2 separate regions of the Homo sapiens genome follow, and region 2 is linked to region 1. Evidence: fine-mapped expression QTL. Tissue or cell type: whole blood. Region 1 holds a variant in brackets; the other region holds the start of a gene. All regions are shown on one strand. Distances are between the middles of the regions.

Region 1 (8,325 bases):
TCAAAATACTCTCTTCTACCTGTTATTACAGCAATCCAAAAAAAGTTATCTATTTTCAAATTAACAATCTGAGACTCTACTTTTAGTAGCTAATTAGTTGTATCACAGGGAAACTTTTTTTTTTTTTTTTTAAATATTTAAGAGCTCAAAGGTATACAGGCAGAAAGTGGAAAATCTCACTACTACTTTTTATTCTAAGCTCACGGTGTTTCAGATATCTATTTCACAACCAAGACCATGAAACCCATCATAGTATTTGTGACTACTATGAAAACTATGACATGTCAGTCAGCCTTGCTGCCTGCTGTGTGCTGTATATAAGTCCATTACATATTCCTTATAGCTGGATTGAAAACCTGAAAATGAAATGAAGTCCCTAGAGAAACTTGGCCATGCTGGTGCTTTTTACCAAGTTTGACAATTTAAAAAAAAAAAATCAGTGTTCAAAGGAGACATACAAAAGTCCATTTAATGTAGCAGAGATGTTTAGGGGATTACAATTTCTATCCCCTGGTAAAACCAATACTTGGTAGAAGGATAAAGAAAAAGCCACGTGAAATAATACTGAATAGCACCAGAATAGCCTTACACTAAAGCTCGCATGCGCACAGGGCTGGGAGGATGGCTTCCTCTTGCCAGGCCCTTTAGGTCATTTCAGCAATTGTTCTGTTAAACATAGCATTAATGTTATCAAGACACAGCAAGCAGCAGAAAGCTTGTGGAGTCACATTTCATAGTGTCTCATCTCCAAATCAGATAAAAGTGGTATACAGGGTTCCATCCAGAAAGCATTCAGTCAGAGCAAGTTAAAGTCAGTACTTTCTAACATACTTTTAAGATACTTATGCTGAATTAGCCCAAGGGAGAAAAATTAATGTGCTTGATGTATTTACTAAGACTTGCATCTCAAGTCTTCAATAATGCCTATTTTTGAAAGAAACCTAGGCAACGAATTGAAGAGACTTGGAAATGTGCCAATTCCCTAAATGTTTTTCTCCCTGTGGGATAATTTTTTTTAAAGGGACAATATATTTGAGGAGAAGAGATTATTCCTGGTGCACCTACCTAACCACTGTACAAAAGACTTCACCATAGACATTATACTCTTGATATCCCAAACATAGGAGTACATGTCATAAAGAATTGTCCTGTTGGCACAATTGGAGAGCCGAGTGAACATTCCCATCACTAGTCCACACATCTCTTCAAACTTGGCTGCTCGTGACCGCCATTCTTCAATCTATTGAAGATCAATAAAAAGACTCAAAAAACTGTAAGCTTAACAAAATAATCTGAGACACAGTTACACATTAAGCTGCTTATGTTGTCAGGTACTGGCAATTTATCTTAACCATTAAAGTATCATTTTGTGTCTCCCCAAACTGACAAATATTCCTAAAATAATGACCTTTCCTCATTCTTAACTAGAAGGGCAAACTATGAAACTGAAGGTACCAGATTTAGTAGAGTCCACATCCACTGTAAAGAACATACTTTTTTTTTTTTTTTTTTTTTGAGACAGTTTCCCTCTCGTCACCCAGGCTGGAGTACAATGGCACGATCTCAGCTCACTGCAAACTCCGCCTCCCGGGTTCTTCAAGCGATTCTCCTGCCTCAGCCTCCTGAGTAGCTGGGATTACAGGTGCCCGTCACCATGCCCGGCTAATTTTTGTATTTTTAGTACAGATGGGGTTTCACCATGTTGGCCAGGCTGATCTCAAACTCCTGACCTCAGGTGATCTGCCCGCCTCTGCCTCCCAAAGTTCTGGGACTACAGGCATGAGCCATCATAACCGGCCTAAAGAACATATTCTAAAACATGGTCAATTTTCTGTCAGTTACAGTGTACTCATTTAAGAACCTTTTCCACATTACCAGTATGGGGAACCACCCAGGCTTCAGCAGCAGGTACATTAAACATACTCACTTTTTCAGAGTCTTTTCCTTTGCAATTGACACTGACAACACTACTATTTGCTCGAAGCCATTGAAATTCCCGTAACATCTGTGCTCCTTTGGGTCCATGCTCGTAAGGAAGGTAGAATAGATCAGCAAGTAACTGCAAATCCTCCAGGGTCACTGGTTCCGCAGTGTACAAAGGCTTTTCATTTGGACCTGGCACAAACTGCTCCTTGTTTGTCTGTTCATCAGTTTGCATGGGGGCAATGTCACTAATACAATCTTCTTGCATGGACATCTCTGGGGATTTTGATTCAGCTATGCTCTCTTTATCAGTGTCCATTGGTTTCAATTCCTCTGCCATTTTCGCTTCAACAATTTCACTCAGTATTTGATTGTCATTCTTGTGGTCCGTTTCTTCTTGTTTTTCCACCACCATGTCCATGGGTTCTTCATCAGGCTGTTTCTTTTCTTCTTCCTTGGTCAGAGTAGTAGGCTCACCACTCAAGGCTGCTCCCTGGCTCATAATGGGCTCCTGATAAACTGTTGTTACTACGGTTGTGGCATTTAAAGAGGGTGCTGCAACTAAAGGAGTCCCATCAACTACACTTGCTTTAGCTCCACTGTGTGCAACTTGCCTACCTACAAAAATAAATAAATGTATAAATAAAATGGTCACACAGATAATCAGAATTAGAGATAGAACACATTAGATTCAGAAAGATGCTTTATCATATTTGTTAAGTGGAACCTCAATTTTAGATCCAAATTAATTTGACCTCTAAGAAAAATGAGATTTCTCTATACTACTAGGGATGCAGGAATGGAAGGGCGTTGGGAGGTAAACATGCCAACATCTACTATTACATTCTCTTTTGAAAATTTGTGTCTAAAAACCCTTAAATTACTTCAAAAAATATGTTTTTAAGAGAAATTAGCATTCCATCAAAATAAAAGCTAATATTTAAGACCAAAAGTAAGATTTAAAAATCCTTATTCTCTAGATCCCCCAATTTCATTTAATTTCACTTTGCTTAGTGGGCATAAGGTAAGGCACATGACAGTGTTCTTTTTTTTGAGACAGAGTCTCGCTCTGTCACCCAGGCTGGAGTACAGTGGCTCAATCTTGGCTCACTGCAACCTCTGCCTCCCAGGTTGAGGCGACTGTCCTGCCTCAGCCTCCCAAGTAGGTGGGACGACAGGCGCATGCCACCACGCCCGGCTAATCTTTGTATTTTTAGTAGGGACAAGGTTTCACTATGTTGGCCAGGCTGGTCTCGAACTCCTGACCTCAGGTGATCCGCCTGCCTCGGCCTCCCAAAGTGCTGAGATTACAGGTGTGAGCCACCACACCCGGGAGACAGTGTTCTTTACTTTGTGACTCAACTATGTGATCTAACCCCCTTAACAAAGAATGGCCAAACTCACTGCTGTATTGATGAGGCACACCAAACTCTTGCAACCATTCTGTTAATGCTAGCTTTAGAGCCATCTGTGGACTATAGAGTACATCAGTTTCAATATCTTCATCACTGCCTTCATTTTCTAATTTTATCTGGATGGACACAGTACTATCTTCACTGTCAGCTGCAAAAAATAAAATAAAAAAGCACAAAAATAGTTTTGATTACAAAAGCCTTCTGACAAGTGAGAAGAATAAATGCAACTAGTTTTCACAGTATAACCACAGAAACAAAGAACAGAATGAGAACAAACCTTAAACATAAAAATTCAAATAAAAGCAAGACCCTTCACCAAACCA[C/T]TTCATATAGGATAGTAACCTAAACGTAATGTTAAATGTAAAATCTCAATTGAAATAAGAAATATAAATTTTAGTATCAGTGGAAGAGTCAATCTTAACCGTCTACTGAGTACTAATTGTTGGGAAGTCAAGGTCAAAAGTACCATGCTTTTCGTATGAAGAAAACATTGCATAGCCTTCAGGGCCTTGTAACTTCTTTTTTTTTTTTTTTTTTTTTGAGATGGAGTCTCACCCCATCACCCAGGCTGGAGTGCAGTGGCAGGATCTTGGCTCACTACAACCTCCGCCTCACAGGTTCAAGCAATTCTCCCACCTGAGCCTCCCCAGTAGCTGGGACTACAGGCGCATGCCACCATGCCCAGCTAATTTTTCTATTATTCGTGAAGATGGGGTTTCACCATGTTGGCCAGACTGGTCTCGAACTCGACCTTGTGATCTGCCCACCTGGGCCTCCCAAAGTGCTGAGATTACAAGCGTGAGCCACTACAACCGACTGTAACTTCATTAATAAAGGCGCTGAGGGAAAAAGAAGAGGCCAGGCATGGTGGCTCATGCCTGTAATCTCAGCACTTTGGGAGGCTGAGGCGGGCAAATCACCTGAGGTCTGCAGTTTGAGACTAGCCTGGCCAACATGGTAAAACCCCATCTCTACTAAAAATACAAAAAATTAGCCAGACGTGGTGGCAGGCACCTGTAATCCCAGCTACTCGGGAGGCTGAGGCAGGAGAACTGCTTGAACCCAGGTGTCAAAGGTTGCAGTGAGCTGAGATCGGGCCATTGCACTCCAGCCTGAGCAACAAGAGCAAGACTCCGTCTCAGAAAAAAAAAAAAAAAAGAGATAATCGACAGAGACCCACAAATTAGCACACATAAGGCAACAAAGCTCTGAGCCAGGATAGTGGTAGAGAAAATTAAGTCTGAATTTTTTGATTTTGTACTTAAAAACTCTCTATTCTTAGCTTTCCTTAATATTTCCTACGTATGTCCCAGGTTTGGATAGTGTCTGCCACCCTTAGTATGTTCCTTGCTGTGCCTTAAAAGATGTAGGAGTTAAGTGCCATGTACGCTGACAGCATTTAAATTATATTCCCAATTTGTTTTTTATTGAGGGGAGGAGGATGACAATGACTGAGCCAAACAAAAGGGAGACATTAATTCAATAAACAATTCAAAGCAGAGGTATGGAATTGAGAAACAGATGACAACTATTAATATTACTACATACTATCATGACACTTCAGTAGCCAAAATGGGCCAAAATTCAGGGAACTTCAAAAGTTCAGTGTTCAGGCTGGGCACAGTGGCTCACGCCTGTAATCCCAGAACTCTGGGAGGCAGAGGCAGGCAGATCACCAGGTCAGGAGTTCGAGACCAGCCTGACCAACATGGTGAAACCCTGTCTCTACTAAAACTATAAAAATCAGCCAGATGGGGTGGTGTGCGCCAGTAATCCCAGCTACTCAGGAGGCTGAGGCCAGAGACTCGCTTGAACCAGGGAGGCAGAGGTTGCAATGAGCCAAGATCGCGCCACTGCACTCCAGCCTGGGCAACAGAGCGAGGCTCTGTCTCAAAGAAAAAAAAAAATTTTCAGTGTTCAGTGTTTTTAACCTCCAGCCCACAAACCTTTAACGCCCAGCAAACTCTCCTCATACTTTGATCCAGCTTAAAAGTCTGTGAAATCTCTTAGCAAAAATAATCACTCTCTCCCGTGTTCACACAGCACTTTATAAATTAAACTATTACAACACTTATCACACTATAGTACAATTGCCTATAAGCCTTACCCAACACTAGACTGTTTCTCAAAAGTAGGAATGGCTGGGCGCGATGGCTCACGCCTGTAATCCCAGCACTTTGGGAAGCCCAGGAGGGCGGATCACCTGAGGTCAGGAGTTCAAGACCAGCCTGACATGGAGAAACCCCGTCTCTACTAAAAATACAAAATTAGCCAGGCATGGTGGCGCATGCCTGTAATCCCAGCTACTCGGGAGGCTGAGACAGGAGAATCACTTGAACCTGGGAGGCGGAGGTTGCAGGGAGCTGAGATTGCGCCACTGCACTCCAGCCTGGGCAACAAGAGCAAGACTCCATCTCAAAAAGAAAAAAAAAAAACTACTTTATTCTTTGCCCCCTCAGTGCCCATGAACATGCATCTGCCCCATGACAGATTATTTAAATGTAAATAATTATCAAGCACCTTACTTAGAACTCTATTAATTAGAGATTTTTCATAAATTAAAAATTAGTAAGCCAATGTCTAAAATAAGACTGTATTCCATTCGGCCAGGCAGGGTGGCTCATGCCTGTAATCCCAGCACTCTGGGAGGCCGAGGCAGGTGGATCACCTAAGGTCAGGAGTTCGAGACCAGTCTGGCCAAGATGGTGAAACCCTGTCTCTACTTTAAAAAAAAAAAAAAAAAAAAAAAAAAGCCGGGTGTGCCTGCAATCCCAGCTACTCGGGAGGCTGAGGCTGGAGAATCGCTTGAACCTGGGAAGCAGAGGTTGCAGCGAGCTGAGATTGCGCCACTGCACTCCAGCCTGGGCGATGGAGCAAAACTCCATCTCAAAAAAAAAAAAAAAGAGTATGTTCCATAAAAGATAAATGTAAGCTGAATCTAAATGATCTAAGTGACTCAAGAGTATCTAGTTATCTAAAATATCCTTTTCAATAAAATTGCCTGAAAATACATTTTATCCGAATGATTCTAGAGATAATGGAAACACTTAAAAGACTGTCTCCTCTAGTACTCAGACTTCAAAGACTGAACCATATTTTATTTTTATTTATTTCATAGGATTTTCATCTGTTGTCCAGGCTGGAGTGCATTTCCTGGGATTATAAGCGAGCCACCACGCTGCTTCTGAATCATACTAAAAAAAAAAAAAACAAAAAAAAAAAAACTAAGGCAAAGAGGTTAAGTGACTTGTCCAAAGACACTCAACCTTTCTTCTATCATATACATCTTCATCAACAGAATGAAACAACATACCATAATAAAACCACTTGGTTTTGTTTCCTCCTTAGTAAAACAAAATACGTTTTTAAAAAAATAAATAAAACTGTTTAAGTTGTGATGACAAAGGAATGCATACTTTCCACTGGCTCTAGTTAACCCCAGCTCTCCTCCCAAGGTGAAAGATCAAGTACAGGCTACTTACTCATCACTACATCTTTTCTCACTCCATTCATGTTTGATTTGTACCAGGTGGCAAGGGTGTGGATAGCAACGTAGTTGGCTTCAAATTCACAATTTGGATTAGTGAGGACTCCTTTTAACCGTGGGATGAGTTCTGTGGATCTTCCTTTGTACGGGCCCAGAAACAGTCTCTTCTGATCATAATCATTAGCATGAATGTTATCCCAGATTACTGGAGCTCTCTTAATAATCTTAGAAACCTCTTCGATGGACTCTACTGGAATTTCTTTAGAAACAACTTTGGGACCTAGAAATAACGACAACCGTTCGTTAAAAGAATCATGGTTCTTGGCTAGACGCATTGGCTCATAACTGTAATCCCAGCACTCTGGGAGGCAGAGGTGGGCAGATCATTTGAGCCCAGGAGTTCGGACCAGCCTGGGCAACACAGCGAGACCCTATCTTTTTATTTTAAATTAAAAAATATATTTAAAAAAAAGAATCATGGTTCTTTAAAATATACTGCATATATAACTTTTTATTGTTTTCCTTACGTGTACTTTTTTTTTTTTTTTTTTGAGACAGAGTCTCGCTGTGTCGCCCAGGCTGGAGTACAGTGGTGTGATCTCGGCTCACTGTAAGCTCCGCCTCCTGGATTCACACCATTCTCCTGCTTCAGCCTCCTGAGTAGCTGGGACTACAGGCGCCCTCCACCACGCCTGGCTAATTTTTTGTATTTTTTAGTAGAGATGGGGTTTCACTGTGTTAGCCAGGATGGTCTCGATCTCCTCACCCTGTGATCCGCCTGCCTCGGCCTCCCAAAGTGCTGGGATTACAGGCGTGAGCCACTGCGCCTGGCCCCTTACATGTACATTTTATAACAACGTTTCTTTTTCTGAGACAGGGTCTCCTCTGTTACCCAGGCTGAAGTGCAATGGAGTAATCATGGCTCACTGCAGCCTTGAGCTCCTGAGCTCAAGCAATCCTCTCACCTCAGCCTCCCAAGTAGCTGGGACTACAGGTGTGCCCCACCATGTCACAGTAATTTAAAATTTTTTTGTACAGATAAGGGCTTGCTATGTTGCCCAGGCTAATCTTAAACTCCTGGCCTCAAGCGATCCTCCTACCTCAACTCAAGCCTCCCACAGCACTGGGATTACAGGCACGAACCAATGCACCCAGCCACAATTTTTCTTTTGAAAACACAACATGTCTTTTACTGAGCTTTATTTTTTTCGTTTTATAAAATAGAAGAGTTTCCTAACGCTGCTTAAGGATGGGATCAATACCTTTTAGCCCAATTCCCTATAAATCTTTATTATTTATTAACTGAATTTTTTTTGAGACAGGGTCTCATTCTGTTGCTCAGGCTGGAGTGCAGTGGCATGATCACAGCTCACTGCAGCCTCTACCTCCCGGGCTCAAGTGATCCTTCCACCTCAGCCCCCTAAGTAGCTGGGACTACAGGTGTGCACCAGCCCACCTGGCTAAGTTTTTTATTTTTTCTACAGTCTCTCTATGTTGTCT
Region 2 (5,000 bases), 250 kb after region 1:
CTGTTTGGGACAAATTTCTGAGATTTAAAATAATTTTTTTTCCTCTCACATCCTCACCAAGCCTTTGCAAGTACTGTTCTCTCCAAATGAAATGCCTTTTCTTTTTCAGAGATGGGGTCTCGCCATGTTGAGCCAGCTCGTCTCAAACTCCTGGGCTCAGGCAATCTACCTGCCTAGGCCTCCCAAAGTGCTAGGATTACAGGTATAAGCCACCAGGCCGAGTAAAAATGCCTTTTCTTACTTGTGCAATCTCCTACTCATCCTTCAACACCCAACTCAAGTATCTCCCCCCTGCAAAGATTTCCCTGACTCTCCCAAGCAATGGCAGTATTCCCATTACACTGTATAAATTTTTTTTTTTTTTTTTGAGAGGGAGTCTCGCTCTGTCGCCCAGGCTGGAGTGCAGTGGCACCATCCCGGCTCACTGCAAGCTCCGCCTCCTGGGTTCATGCCATTCTCCTGCCTCAGCCTCCTAGTAGCTGGCACTACAGGCGCCCGCCACCACACCCGGCTAATTTTTTGTATTTTTAGTAGAGACGGGGTTTCACCATGTTAGCCAGGATGGTCTTGATCTCCTGACCTTGTGATCCGCCGGCCTCCGCCTCCCAAAGTTACATAGTAAGTGCTCAATAAATGTGTTGAATAAACAGTTCACCCTTATATATCCTGGATCAATTTTTGGCCATTTTCCCCAAATGTTACAGATTCCTAAACTGTGCTCAGTGTGAGATTCCAAATTTCATAATGACTGCTTTGAGGTTTTCACCTTGTTTTAATTATCCAAATGTTGAACAAGTCGGCTGGGGGCAGTGACTCACTCCTGTAATCCCAGCACTTTGGGAGGCTGAGACGGGTGGATCACGAGGTCAGGAGTTGGAGACCAGCCTGGCCAATATGGTGAAACTCCGTCATTACTAAAAACACAAAAATTAGCCAGGCATGGTGGTGCGCGCCTGTAGTCACAGCTACTCAGAAGGCTAAGGCAGAAGAATCGCTGGAACCCGAGAGACGGAGGTTGCAGTGAGCCAAGATCATGCCACTGCACTCCAGCCTGGGCGACAGAGCGAGACTCCGTCTCAAAAAAAAAAAAAAAAAGTTGAACAATAAATTGTAATACCTAAAAGTCCAATGAAAACACCTTAAAGGCTTCTCTAGTCACTGAAATGGGTATTCCCCCTTTACAGTCGTAACAAGAGGGATCCCTCTTTCCCTTGACTGTGATCTGATATCCTGAAAGTCTTCACACAGAAGCTATTGTGCACACAAATCCAACTTAAGGTACACCCAAAATAATTCCAATCCTGCTAAGTTACGGGCAGGGACACAAATCATATTTACCCTAGTTTACAAAGCAACTAAAGGATAGCAAAGAAAAAGCTCTCACTAAGCTCAAAACTTTTTCTGGCCGGGCGCAGTGGCTCACACCTGTAATCCGAACACTTTGGGAGATCGAGGTGGGTGAATCATCTGAGGTCAGAAGTTTGAGACCAGCCTGGCCAACATGGCGAAACCCTGTCTCTACTAAAAATACAAAAATTAGCCGGGCGTGGTAGCTCACGTCTGTAATCCCAGCTGCTTGGGGGGCTGACGGGGAAGAATCGCTCGAACCTGGAAGGCGGAGGTTGCAGTGAGCCGAGATCACGCCATTGCACTCCAGCCTGGGCAACGAGAGCGAAACTCCGTCTCAAAAAAACAAAAAACAAAACAAACAAACAAACAAAAAAAAAAAGGCCGGGCGCGGTGGCTCACGCCTTTAATCACAGCACTTTGGGAGGCCGAGGCGGGCGGATCACCTGAGGTTGGGAGTTCGAGACCAGCCTGACCAACATGGAGAAATCCCGTCTCTATCAAAAATATAAAATTAGCTGGGCGTGGTAGCGCAAGGCTGAGGCAGGAGAATCGCTTGAACCCCGGAGGCAGAGGTTGTGGTAAGCCGAGATCGGGCAACTGCACTCCAGACTGGGCGACAACAGCGAAACTCCATCTCAAAATAAATAAATAAATAAATAAATAAATAAAATAAAATAAAAAACTTTCTGGAGAGGAAGAACTGCGGAGGGTCGGATGATCCAGTGACATACATTTGGGTATGGCCCAAGTTTCTGCTTCCCCATTCGCCAGGGGCAGCACGCCTCAGCTTCTCCTTCTCCAGGGGACCAGGTTTCTCTCTACTTTTTCCTTCCCTATACCCTCCTGGGAACAGGTTCCTTTCCTGGGCTCTCGCCGAGTAACCCAAAGAAAACACAGTAGCTTCACTGATTCCGTGTGAAGAGTGGGTTAAAGCCTGTCAGAGCCTGGAGAGGGACAGGACTGGAGCCCTTCCGGGACACCTGAAGACTTCGCACAAACCCGCTTTCCTCTATCCCTGAGATTCTCAGAGGTGCCTTGCCCTACGCCCGCACCCCAGGACCAAGAACAGCAGGAGAGGAAGCTCTCGGGGCAGCTGGCGGGGTCAAAGGTCAGCACCTCGGAAGCCAGAAGGCCCCGCAGGGATGCGGGAGAGGGACGTGACCGGGACCGTGTGGTCCGAGGGACCGGCCGCTGGAAGAGCGAAGCCGTTTCTCTCTAGGCTCGGCCGCCCCCAGGCCCAGCCCTCCCCGGCATACGCAGCTTCAGCAGCCGTCCTCCCTCCCTCTCCCCTCGCGTCCTCGTCGTCCCCGCGGCCAGCGCAGGCCCCGCCCCCAGAACCGCCTCGGGGCCAAGGCCTAGTATGGCAGGACCCGCAGGGTTGGTCAGGTTCGAGGACCGGGCCGGGCCTGGCCGCCGCCGCTTACCGAGCCCGCGGCTCCTCCTCTACCACCCGCGCCGTTCCCGGGCCCGCTCGCTCTCGACGCCACCGACGCTGCCGCTGCTCCGGGCTCACGGGCGCGCTCCCGACCTCCCCGACCCTTCCCGTGTCCCCGCGCCCCGCCGGGTCCTAAAGCCCGGCGCGCAATGGGTTAGTCCACGCCCGCTTCCTGAGACCGGCTCAGACCACGATTCCCAGCAAGCATCGCAAAGACTACAACTCCCGAAAGGCATCGCGAGAAATAAATTCGCAGTGGACTTGTCTATTGAGGGCCTACTGGGTCGCAATAGCAGTTTTCCGAAACATGGCCGACTCTTTGACCTCAGCAATTTTACTTCTAGGAATACATGTATCCTCTAGAAATACTGGCGAAGTTTGGAAAGATATATTTTCCAAATGTGTATTACAACTTTGTACGTGAAAGATTGAAAACAAACTCATTCTTTCAACAAATACGTGTGTGCCTGATAAGTGCAAAGTAGCGTGTAAAGCTCTATTAACTTGGCCAGAAATCTATTTTCTTTTCTTTTCCTTTTTTTTTTTTTTGAGACAGGATCTTGCCCTTGCCCAGGCTGGAGTGCCGCAGTGGCACAATTACAGCTCAGTGCAGCCTCCACCTCCTAGGCTCAAGCAGTCCTCCTGCCTCTGCCTCTGGTAGCTGGGATTACAGGCACGTGCCACCACTCCCTGCCTCTGAGTCTTTGTTTTCTTTTTTTTTTTTTTTTTCGAGATGGTGTCTCACTCTATTGCCCAGGCTGGAGTGCAGTGGTGCGATCTCGGCTCACTGCAACCTCTGCCTCCCGGGTTCAAGAGAGTCTCCTGCCTCAGCCTCCCCAGTAGCTGGGATTACAGGAGTGTACCACCACGCCCGGCTAATTTTTGTATTTTTTAGTAGAGACAAGGTTTCACCATGTTGCCAGGCTGGTCTCAAGCTCCTGGCCTCAGGTGATCCACCCGCCTCTGCCTCCCAAAATGCTGGGATTACAGGCGTGAGCCACCGCACCCAGCCTGAGTCTCTGTTTTTTTATACACAAATGGAAGGTTTAAAAAGATGTGCTATAACAGCAAGAATACTATTAAAAAGAAAAAACAAGTAAAAAAAATAAAATAAGCCAGGCGCGGTGGCTCACACCTGTAATCCCAACACTTTGGAAGGCAAAGGCGGGTGGATCACCTGAGGTCAGGAGTTCGAGACCAGCCTGGCCAACATGGTGAAACCCCATCTCTACTAAAAATACAAAAAATGGCCGGGCGTGTTGGCAGTCCTCTGTAATCCCAGCTACTCGGGAGGCTGAGGCAGGAGAATCGCTTGAACCTGGGAGGCGAAGGTTGCAGTGAGCCAAGATCGCGCCATCGCACTCCAACCTGGGCGACAGAGCGAGACTCCGTCTCAAAACAAAAAAGAAGTGGAGAAGAGTTCTGTGGGCGGCAAGCCACCCAGGTGCCGAGTCAAGAGACCGAAGACACAAGCTGTTCCAGTATAATAAAGAAAATAATTAAAATAAGAATAGCTATATTAGAAATAGAATATAGATGTGATTATATATGAATATTAGTAATCATTAGTTTGTAGCATTACTTTTATTAATAACTTATATTTTACAATTATAATTTAGGAAAACCAGGCCATACAGAGTTAGGAGCTGAAGGGACACGGTGAGAAGTGACCAGAAGGCAAGAGTGTGAGCCCTCTGTCACGCCCAGACAGGGCCACTAGAGGACTCCTTGGTCTAGCGGTAATGCCAGTGCCTAAGAAGGCACCCGTTACTTAGCAGACCTTGGACTAGCCATAGCGCCAGTGCCTGGGAAGGCACCTGTTACTTAGCAGACGGGCCTTTCCCTGAGGAAGTTAGAGAACACTCTGCTTCACCACCTCTTGTTGGAAGCCTGACATCAGCCAGGCCTACCCGCAGCCAACCGGAGGCTTAAACCTCTCCGAGATGCTGTGCTTCAGCGGTCACGCTCCTGGTTCACTTTCCTGTTCCGCTCTGTACCTAGATAGCAGTAGCAGAACTAGTAAAAGTATTAAAGTCTTTGATCTTTCTGAGAAATGCACAGAAGAAATAATGACGTAAGCTGTCCCCTCTCTCTCTGCTTCGGCTACCAAATAGGGAAGGGCCCCCTGTCCGGCAGACACGTGACTTGTGTAACCTTACCTATCATTGGAGATGACTCACACTCCTTACCCTGCCCCCTTGCCTTGTACACAATA

What was found. PIP is the estimated chance that this variant, and not a neighbour inherited with it, causes the effect.
Region 2: it holds the start of ARMH3, and the variant in region 1 is fine-mapped to the expression of ARMH3 in whole blood (TOPMed, PIP above 0.99).

Annotation. Positions count from the first base shown.
Region 1 is chr10:101,796,915-101,805,239 of GRCh38, forward strand. It overlaps OGA (O-GlcNAcase), which reads right to left. Exons shown (of 16, transcript NM_012215.5): 7 at 6,821-7,105; 8 at 3,328-3,486; 9 at 1,928-2,541; 10 at 1,066-1,240. Among named protein-coding and RNA genes, the nearest start is that of OGA, 17 kb to the right of the region's middle. The variant C/T (reference allele first, on the strand shown) is at 3,662.
Region 2 is chr10:102,053,311-102,058,310 of GRCh38, forward strand. It overlaps ARMH3 (armadillo like helical domain containing 3), which reads right to left and starts at 2,863. Exons shown (of 26, transcript NM_024541.3): 1 at 2,775-2,863. RefSeq lists a silencer at 2,563-2,952.